2 separate regions of the Homo sapiens genome follow, and region 1 is linked to region 2. The links come from fine-mapping of genetic effects on gene expression. A gene starts in region 2. The other region holds a variant in brackets. All regions are shown on one strand. Distances are between the middles of the regions.

Evidence for each region. PIP is the estimated chance that this variant, and not a neighbour inherited with it, causes the effect.
Region 1: its variant is the best candidate, but not a certain one, in a credible set for the expression of ATP13A3 in whole blood (GTEx, PIP 0.61).

Annotation. Positions count from the first base shown.
Region 1 is chr3:194,532,051-194,537,424 of GRCh38, reverse strand. It overlaps the pseudogene RNU6-1101P. Among named protein-coding and RNA genes, the nearest start is that of ATP13A3-DT, 48 kb to the right of the region's middle. RefSeq lists enhancers at 111-405, 131-425 and a silencer at 131-425. The variant T/C (reference allele first, on the strand shown) is at 2,118.
Region 2 is chr3:194,483,973-194,489,346 of GRCh38, reverse strand. It overlaps ATP13A3 (ATPase 13A3), which reads left to right and starts at 2,345. Exons shown (of 34, transcript NM_001367549.1): 1 at 2,345-2,781; 2 at 3,512-3,553. It overlaps ATP13A3-DT (ATP13A3 divergent transcript), which reads right to left and starts at 2,207. Exons shown (of 2, transcript NR_033929.1): 1 at 2,175-2,207; 2 at 802-1,891. RefSeq lists an enhancer at 1,326-1,545 and silencers at 2,216-2,875, 2,906-2,955, 3,046-3,105.

The sequences.
Region 1 (5,374 bases), 48 kb before region 2:
TCAGGCCACCAGGCCCCAGGAAGGGAGCTGTGCCTCCAGAGCAGGCATGCATGTTCTGTCTGGAACACACGAGTATGCAAGTTGCCAGAAAGGTCCCTGGACTCTGTTGTTGTAGGTAGGTTCTTTGCTAGGCAATGGGAATTTAGAGATGGATAAAGCATGATCTCAGCCCTCAAGGAGCTCACAGTGGCTGCTCATTCATAGGCATTCCCTCTAAGCATGAGAAGTCCCAGTGGAGTGGCTAAAATCAAGTTTCTGGACATGTGGAAGTAAGGACCAAATTCTGAATGCTCTCTGGGCCAGAAAAATGCTGTTCTACCAGGAGGGCCTGAAAAAGGCAGCTGGACTTTACCCCTTCCCAGTGCAAACAGTGGACTCTATTGCAGTAACCACTATCCTCTCTAACTAGCACAGGTTTATTAGAATGTTAGAAAATCATTATTTCCTTTTATACTTAACTTGCTGTTGACAGTGACTCTGCACATATTCTCTGGCTGCAGCCCTGAACCAAGAGAGGAAACAGTAGCCTTCAGGCACCTCTCCAGGCTTTAAAATTATAAAATGTATCATATTTAGAGAAAAGTATGTGTACAATCTAAAGATTAAATAACGAGGCCGGGTGCAGTGGCTCACACCTGTCATCTCAGCACTTTGGGAGGCTGAGGTGGAAAGATGGCTTAAAATCAGGAGTTTGAGACCAGCCTGGGCACCTTAATGAGACCACCAGCTCTACACACACACACACACACACACACACACACACACAACAACAACAACAATAACAACAACAACAAAACCAAACTAACAAACAAAACCATAAAATAAAACTAGCAGAGTGCAGTGGCACACACCTGTAGTCCCAGCTACTCAGGAGGCTAAGGCGGGAAGAGCTCAAGAGGCAGCAGTGAGTTGTGATCACGCCACTGCACTCCAGCCTGGGCAACAGAACAAGACCCTCTTTCAAAATAATAAAATAATAGGCCAGGCACAGTGGCTCACGCCTGTAATCCCAGGATTTTGGGAGGCCAAGGCAGGCAGATTACCTGAGGTCAGGAGTTTGAGACCAGCCTGGCCAACATGGTGAAACCCCATCTCTACTAAAAATACAAAAATCAGCCGGGTGTGGTGGCTCACTCCTGTAATCCCAGCTACTCGGGAGGCTGAGGTAGGAGAATTGCTTGAGCCTGGGAGATGGAGGTTGCAGTGAGCCGAGATCGTGCCACTGCACTCCAGCCTGGCCAACAGAGCGAGACTCTGTCTCAAAATAATAATAATAATAATGACAAACACCTATCACCCACTAGTACCTTGAGGCTCAGCTGTGTGCCTCCCTGCAATCTCTGCTTCCCTGGGCACCACATCCTCCCCAGGTACTACCTTTAATGTCAGTCGTTACTGTTTGCTTTATAGTTTTGCCCTCTATATGACATATCCCTAAACAATCTACTGGTTGGATTTGAATAACTGAGTGGCTAGCACAAAGCTAGCTGTGTAAGGAAAGAGCACTGTTGCCAGTATTACATGAGATTTCCTGGGAAAATAAGCTGAATAGAGTTGCTGGGTCATGGAAAACAAGCTGAATAGAGTTGCTGGGTTATAATGTAATTTCAACCTTCCTGAGTCTTTAAAAGCCTCTTCTGGAGAAGTCAGAGGACAAAATCATGATCAAAGAGCAAGGCATGGCGGCATGTGCCTGTAGTCCTAGCTACTCAGGAGGCTGAAATGGGAGGATCACTTGAACCCAGGAGTTCTGGTCCAGTCTGGGCAACATAGTGAGACCCCATTTCAAAACAAAAACAAGGCTGGGCACAGTGGCTCACGCCTGTAAGCCTTTGAGAGGCCGAGGCAGATGGATCACCTGAGGTCAGGAGTTTGAGACCAGCCTGGCTAACATGGTGAAACCCCGTTTCTACTAAAAATACAAAAAATTAGCCAGCTGTGGTGGCGTGTGTCTGTAATCCCAGCTACTCGGGAGGCTGAGGCAAGAGAATTGCTTGAACCCAGGAGGCGGAGGTTGGGGTGAGCAGAGATTGGCCATTGCACTCCAGCTTGAGCAACAAGAGCGGAACTCCGTCTCAAAAACGAAACAAAACAAGAAAACAAACCAGAACAAAACA[T/C]GCATCTATCTTCCTAATTGGAGGGGAGAAAGCCAAAAAAAAAGAAAAAAACAATCGTACACAGGCGCAGATCTAGGATTTGTGGGGTCTGAAGATTATATAATTTGGAGGACCCTTTTGTAAGATTATAAGTTCAAAATTACAAATACTAAATTAGGTACAGGGCCTTGGGGAGGGCATATATGAATAAAGGGCTTCCGTTTCATTAGTTTCAGGTGGATAAGTCTCTAACCATGAGGGTTCACCTGTGTCTGGGCATCTGGCAGATCTGCAGGATGGGCCAGGCACTGAAGACCCTGTAGAAATAGGGTCAGAGGGGGAAGGATGCTTTGTATTTTCTGCTTTTAAGCTCATTAGCCTACATTCAGCTCTCAAGAGTAGGCCTAAAGCACAACACTTCAGAAACGGGCTGTTTTATGAAATGAATACGCTCAGCCGATTCTACCAGCAGAGTGTAGAGAGGTGAGTGGGAATTTCCATAATATGTAATGAAACTGTGACAAATATGGATAAATCGTCCTCAAGTTTGAACAAGGTATGATATCAGTGAGGATTTTTGGGTGATGACAGTTCTCAACCTGTTTCTTGAGTCACAGTTTTCCACATGGAAATGGTTGTTCTCCACATGTTGTACACAGCGATTATCATGGCATTTCCCCTTACTATCCTCCCAGGGAATCTCCTTGCTTCTCTCCTATTTTAGATTCTCCTCCTGGATTTACTTGGTCTTTGCGTGGAGTATCTTCTCCGGTAGCTTATAGAGAAGGAGTGCATGATAGATAAAAGTTTTTGAAATCTTACATACTTGAACATATTTTTTTCTGCTCTCATACTCAATTGATAGTATGGCTGGGTATAGAATTCCAGATTGCAAGTTACATTTCTCAGAATTTTAAAGGCACTGCTTCATTGTGCTTTGGCTTCTAGTGTTGCTGATGCGAAGTCCAAATCCATTTTGCTTCCTAAACTTTGTATATAGCCAATTTTTTCATCTCTAGAGGCAATGAAATCTTCTCTTCCTCCCTAAAATGATGCTGGCTACTTATTGGCTCTTAAATATCACAGTTCATTCTATTGTTGAATTATGACATTGATTGCTTTGTCCCTTCTTTTCTCTTTTTTCTTTCTGGAAACACCGGTATTCAGATATAAGATCCCCTGAACTAGTACTCTTAACTTCCTAACCTTTTGTCTACTATTTTATATCCCTTTATCTTTTTGCTATATTTCCTGGGAAATTTCCCTAATGTTGTATTTCAGCTATTATGTATAATTATTTTTTTCTGCTTAAGCAGATCATTTTTCCTTATATCCTTATCATTTTTTCCTTTCTATGGAAGTATTGTATGCACATTGTTTAAAAATTATACAGCACTCATTTCAATAGCACATTTGATAAAACTGGAATGAGACAGGCCAGGAGTGGTGGCTCATGCCTGTAATCCCAGCACTCTGGGAGGCCGAGGAGGGCAGATCACAAAGTCAGGAGATTGAGACCATCCTGGCTAACATGGTGAAACCCTGTCTCTACTAAAAATAAAAAAAAATTAAAAAAAAAATTATCCCGGCGTGGTGGCGGGCACCTGTAGTCCCAGCTAATTGGGAGGCTGAGGCAGGAGAATGGTGTGAACCCAGGAGGTGGAGCTTGCAGTGAGCCAAGATCATGCCACTGCACTCCAGCCTGGGCAACTAAGCGAGACTCCGTCTCAAAAAAAAAAAAAAAAAAAAAAACTGGAATGAGACAGAAAATTAGCATGGTCCCTGCGCAAGGATGACATGCAAATTTGCAAGGGTTCCATATTTTTAAAAAATCATTACAGAATTCTTTACATAGAAAATTCCATCTAGTAGATCATTGAACAAAAGAGAGACCAGAAATAGATCTACACATACACATGTATGACCTAAACCTGTGGATATGAACCACATTTTATATTTGCTTTTGACAAAGATTTTATATAGCAAGAAATGTGGCTCCTATAGAGAAGCCTGGCCTTTTCCCCATCTCCTGGGAGGTAATCTCTAAACTCTTGGAATTTCCTGAGTGTTAAGGGTGTCTTTGTTATTTGATGGGCCCTTGGAACTACACCTGATATTTTATGCTATAACATGTTGGGGGTGGCCATGGCAGGAAGACCAACTATCTGATAAGACGGTTGGAGCTGGGGGACACATGGTATCAGCTCAACCTCTAGGGAACAGGGGGCGGGAGATTGAGTACAACCACATGGGCTCAACCAATCGTGTTTGTAAGAAAACCTCAATAAAATCTCTGGGCACCAGAGCTCAGGTAAGTTTCCCTGGTTGGGAATACTCTGAACAGACTATCACACATCAGTGCTGGTAGGAAAACACTTTCCTGAAGATAGTGGCAGTTTCATGTTTGCAACCCTCCCAGACTTCACCCTACGTGTCTCTTCCTTTGTCTGGTTCTAATTTATATCCCATTGCTATAATAAAGCTGCAGTGGTACACACAGCACTTTCCTGAGTTCTGTGAGTCATTCTAGCAAAGTACCAAATCTGAGAGTGGTTTTAGGAAGCCGCAAACTCGCAGTTGGTGTCTGAAGTCAGGGCAATCTTATAGGGATTGTTCCGTCTGACTGTGTGGTTTGGGTAACTCCTTACAGATACCAAGGCAATTCACTGAGAAAATGGACTCTTTTGCACATGTCATACTGTAATTATTGATATCCATATGTAAAGAAATGAGCCTCAACCCTTACCTCATAGTATCTGCAAAAACTAACTTGAAATGAAAAGTAGACCGGAATGTAAGAACTAGAACTAGAACTTTTCTAGAATAAAATACAGAAGAACGTCTTTGTGACCCTGGGTTGGGCATATATTAATATATTAAATAGACCACAAAAAGGAAAATATGATGACTAGGTCTTCATAAAAATTTTAAAAATTTGCTCTTCAAATAATACTGTTAAGAAAATGAAAAGGCAAGTCTGGGGTAAAATATCGGCAAAATATGTATCTGTCAAAGTATTTGTATCAAGAATATAAAAAGAATTATTTGGCGGGTGTGGTACCTCATGCTTGTAATCCTAGCACTTTGGGAGGCTGAGGCAGGAGGATCACTTGGATAGTCATTCTAGCAAAGTACCAAACCTGAGGGTGGTTTCAGGAAACCCCCAAATTTGCACACTTACAAACTTGTAAAAAAATCCAATTAGAAAACGGGTAAAAGACATGAACAGACATTTCCTGAAGAAGCTATACAGATGGCAAATAAGCACATGAAAAGAG
Region 2 (5,374 bases):
CTCAGCCTCCCAAGTAGCTGGGATTACAGGCATGTGCCACCACGTCCAGCTAATTTTGTATTTTTAGTAGAGATGAGGTTTCACCATGTTGTCAGGCTGGTCTTGAACTCCTGACCTCGTGTGATCCACCAGCCTCGGCCTCCCAAAGTGCTGGGATTACAGGCATGAGCCACTGCGCCCAGCCCACCATAGGAATTTGAGGCTTATTAAGGAGGTGAAATAGATAGGACTTGGTGATTGGGTAAGGCAGAGGGCTGAATTAAGAATGACTCACTCATTCCCAACTTTCTAATTCTGATGACTGTGGAGATGGTGGTGCCAACAGCTGAGGGAGGGGCAGCTATGAAAGCAGAGAATGAGTTCAGTTTTGGAAATGTCCAGTTTGGGGTGTCTGTGATATCTAGCTAGAGCTGCCTGGCAGGCAATTGGATATTTGGTTCTAAATTTTGTGGAAGGGGTCTGGGTTGGAAATTGCTAATTTGGGAGCTGCATCCATGAGGATGCAGGCAATCCCAGAAGAATGAGTGAAGTGAGCAAAGTTGTTGGCTTAGAGTGGAATCCTGAATTTAAGGTGCAGATTCACAAGTAGATGTTACCAAGGAGGCAGAGGCTTTACTTACCTTCATGTGATAATCCAGAGGGTTCACTCTTCTGAAACCAAGGTAGTAGAGAGATTCCAGAAGGTGAGAGTCATCCCAAGGTGTCAAATGTAGCAGAAAGAACCAGAGAGATAAGGCCTGAGGAATGCCTGCAAGGTTTGGCAAAATGAAAGTCATGAGTTGCTCTTGCCTGAGCAAGGTGAAGGGTTAGAGTTGGGGAGGAGAAGCCAGAATGCCAAGTGTTGAGAAATGAGGAAGCAGAGGCAGCCAGGGAAGACCATTGTTTGAGGTCCGCATGAAACACTTGGAAGCTAGTTGGAGGGAGCACTTCAGGAGGAGGTTGGCTTGATAATTTTGTTTTTAGGACTTGGAGAGGCCAACCTGTTTAAAGGCTGAGAGGAAGCAGCAAGGCAAGGAAGCCTGGGAGGTGGGGGAGGAAGATTTTAGGGCCAGACCCCACCCAGACCGTTTTCTTGTGGTTTGCCCAACACTACCACACACCCCTTAATCTCATTTAATCATTTCAACACCACGAGGTTTGAAACAAACGGTGAGGTATGAAACAAAACGGTGAGGCCAGGGATTGGGAAGAGAAAGCTGTGGTTCCATCTCGGTCCAGCGTGCTGTCCACGCCAAGAGGCGGGCAGAAATGCTAGCCTCACACAATCTAGGGGACCAGGGGTGGCTGTGGCGCCCTCCTGCCCGCAGGAGGTGTTATCAGTGTCGCGGACTCGGGCGGTGTGCTGCCCCTGGTGAGATGTCATCACGTGCGTGGACCAGGGGTGGCGGCCCTGGTAAGTGTCCAGGGACTAAGGGCTCCCTGCTCTCCAGGTGTGGTGGACGGGGTCCGCATGCATGCCGTCCTCTTCTCTAAGACGCTAAGGCGGCTGAGTTCTGTAAGTAGCGGCAAGAAGAACAGTCACGGAGCGGGCCGGGCACAAAGGGCGCAGGCCAGGTGGCCCCAGGCGGAAAGATGGCCGCAGCCAGAGGCTGCAGGTGGCCGGGCGCGCTCCCTGCGCGCGTCGCGGAGAGGACGCAGCGAAAATCAAACCCGCGATTTGGAAATCCGGCTGCGGCCCTACCCCGAGATAAGTCTTCTGCGGAGGGAAGTATTTAATTTGCATCCAGGACGGTCGGAAGAGGCGCCTTCCCGTCGGAGGCGAGGCGCGGGCGCGTGGGAGCTTTCTCGTGTGCGCTCCTCCCTGTCCTCCGCCTGCGGCCGGGGCGCAGAGTCCGTGGTCATATGAGAATGACAGTTTTTTGTCTGTTTGTTTTGGCGGGGGCGAGGGTGGCTAAAGGAATGAAAGAGCCTTGCATTAGGAGCTGGGCTCTGGTTTCCTCTCCACCATTCTAGCACAAGCTTCCTCCATGACCATGACTCTGGGCAACGTCTGTCTAGTCACTGAGCCTCAGTTTCCCTGTTCATAAAATGGGAGATTGGACTATGATGTTGTCATAGCCCAAAGGGGATGAAGTGGGATTTGCCGTTCCATTTCATCCCACCAGAAAAGCCGCCCTCCATTAGCCACCCCGGGCTGACACCCAGCGTTTTTGGACGGCCTCGCCTCCCCTTACCTGCCTCTTTCTTTCTTTTGCCCGTTCGAGGGTGGCAAAGGCGATGGGTGGGCGGGGCCTATAAATCGCCCCGCCCCTCCCCGCCCCTTCCCCGCCTCCTGACGTCGCCCGCGCCCCTCCGCCCTCCGCGCGGGGATGAAGCCACCACGTGACCTCACATCCGGCGCGGGAGTCCTGAGCCCGCGCGCGCTCCCCCGCCTGCCTGCCGGCTCTCCCCGCAGCGTGATCGGGCGCCGCCGCGGAGGGGAGGGGGGTTCTCTACGTCGCTGGCGGCGGGGGGGCCGTTTCGGAGTGCAGACCGCCCCCCTCCCCTGCCCACCTCCCGCCGCCCTCCCTTGTTCTCGCCCTGCCGGCTGCACGCCGCCGCCGCGGGCGCGGAGGAGGAGGAGAGCGCGGACGTCCCAGGGCCGGCCCGGCCCCGCCGCGGCGCCTCCTTCCCTCACCCTGAGCCGCAGCGCGCGGCGCCGGCCGAGGGCGATGGGGCTGGGCTGAGGCGAGGCGGCGGCGGCGACAGCGGCGGCCGGGTCCCCCGCGGTCCCTGGGGCTGGTCCGGCCGCGAGGGAGGCCGCGGAGGAGGCGGCGCGGCGGCGGCCAGTGAGCGGCCCCGGTGAGCGGGGCGAGGGGCGGGTGGGCAGCGGCGCCGGGGGAGGTCGAGGAGGCGAATGGTGGTGTCGGGGCGGCGGGTACCGGGCGAGGTCGCGGCCAGCCTTCTCGGGCCGGAGTTGGGCATCGCGGGGACGGGGAGTGTCGGGGGCAGGTGAGGCCAGGGCAGGAGCCCACGCGGTGGGTGCGAAGGCCTGGGGGGGACGCGCCGCCTGCCGGGGGCGAGCGTGGGGGCCGGGCGCTTGGTGGTTGGTAGTCAGAGCTTTCGGAAAGTCCTGTGGGAGGTGGAGGTCCTGTGGGCAGAGGCGTAGGGGTGCTGGCAGGGCCCTCGATGAGTCTGTGCGGGACCCTAGCTCGTCCTCAGCCGTGGAGTATGGAGCTGCTTGCCATCTCCGCATTTCACAGATAAAAGGAGTGAGTCCCGTGGAGGAAAAGTGACTTCTGACTTGCCTGAGGCCTCCCACTCGGACTCTGTGGCAGTGAGGACTAGAAAAACCCAGGGCCCTTTGCCCTAGCAGTGCTCTCGTGGCCACTCTCGCTATGGCCTTTCTGTCTCTCCATTCCCTTCACAGAGTCAGGTTCTGGTGGAAGTATGACCTCTGGCTTTTTTGGGGAGGTGAGGGGTAGGGATGAAGGGGGAGGGAATCGGGTTGGGATTGGCAGGAACTCAGCTGGGGGCTTCCCGGTGTGGAAGAAGCTTTGTGACAGGTGTTTATTGTTTCCTCTTCCCATAGATCTGACAGACATCCCTGAATCTTGGTGTTTGGACATAGGAGGTATGAATCACTCACATAATTAGCCGCTTTTAATCATCAGTGTCTTAGAGCTATATTTAGTGGTTATATTAGTGCAAAATGAATGGGTGTGGAGTCGTACACCTAGAAACAGACTTGTGTTCCTCTATACGATTCTAACTAAATGAGTAGAACATACCTGGGTATGTCATGGCTACTTTAGATCTATGAGGCAGGAAGTTAGAATTTAAGGAATCTAAGAAATGCAGGGACTTGAAAGATTATTGCAAAATAAAGCCTTTAAAAAGTATCGTTGTTAAAATGAAAGTGTTTCGATTTGATTCCTTTGAAGGGTGAGTACGTAATGAACAGTGCTCTATCTTTGGTTAGAGCTCAGCCTCTTTACCAAGGTACATGTATTAATTTTGTTTCACTGGAATATATGTGACATTATTTTCTCTAGAGGTTTGTTGCTTTGCTTAATAGACTACAGTTGCCAAAAATCAATGTGTGTGGGCATCTCATCCTGGTTTGCAACCCCTTTAAGGCAAATCAGTGCTTGGAAGTTGTTCGAAGTAGTAAACCTATTATTAATGATTGTTGTAGAACATAACTTTTGCTGGTATCTTTGATTTGCATTATCCTACCATTAGATCAGGCAGAGAGTGAAATAATTGAGATTTTGAGCCTTGTTAGAACAACAATGCCTGGCTTTGGTCAGGGGATTGGGTAGGAAAAGTGACACTATTTGGTTGCTTTAAATTTTTTTTTTTTTTTTTGAGATGGCATCTTGCTCTGTTGCCCAGGCTGGAGTGCAGTGGTGTGAACTCGGCTCACTGTAACTTCTGCCTCCTGGGTTTCAGCGATTCTCCTGTCGCAGCCTCCTAAGTAGCTGGGATTTCAGGTGTGTGCCACCACGCCCAGCTAATTTTTTGTATTTTTAGTAGAGACAGGGTTTCACCACGTTGGCCAGGCTGGTCGTGAACTACTGACTTCAGGTGATCTTCCTGCCTAGGCCTCCCAAAGTGCTGGTATTACAGGCGCTAGCCACCGAGCTTGGCGGTTGATACTTACATAGTTAGTTTAGGTCACCAAATATACAACACACAGAATCCGCTTTGGATAAACCACATTATCGAGCTCATTTTGAAATCCTATTTCTGTCTTCAAGATTTTCGAGATTATAAACCACTTTGTTGTCATTCACAAGTATAAAGTTCTTATTTCCAACATCACTGAGACTGAGAAAAAAGACAGAATAAAGATAAAGTTCCATAGGGCGTCCCCATCACTGCTTATTCTCACTGAGTTTGACCATTGAGTAGGTTGTATATCCATAGTAATATGATATAGTGCCTATGTCCTAAGATTACTATTTATCTTAGGAATAAAGCATATTCATATTCTAAAACCTCATATTCACAGTAGTTACAAAACCACCACGTTATACAAGCATAGTTTGATTCAATATATGGAATGGAAGAAGGAAAGAAACCATTATGTGCCAGGAAAAGTGCTCCTTTCTTTACATATGGTCTCAACTAATCCTCAACACTTTCAGGTAACAATATTCTTCTTTGTTAAAAAAAAAATTAAAGAAGTTAAGGAGCTTACAGTATAAGCGACTTTGAAGACAGACAGAAACCTAGCTCTGTGTTAATGTGCTTAACACAGAGGTTTCTGTCTCTGGGTTTATAAGGTTAGTTGTATGTGACTAGGCAACATAACATCTCTGAACCTCAGATTCTGGTGATAAATCAGATATGTCATCTTAATAGGTGTCACACACTAGATCACCTTCTTTTAGCACACAACTGTGAACTGTTTTGACTGTTTTCTTTGATAGGTGATAAGCTGCCAACT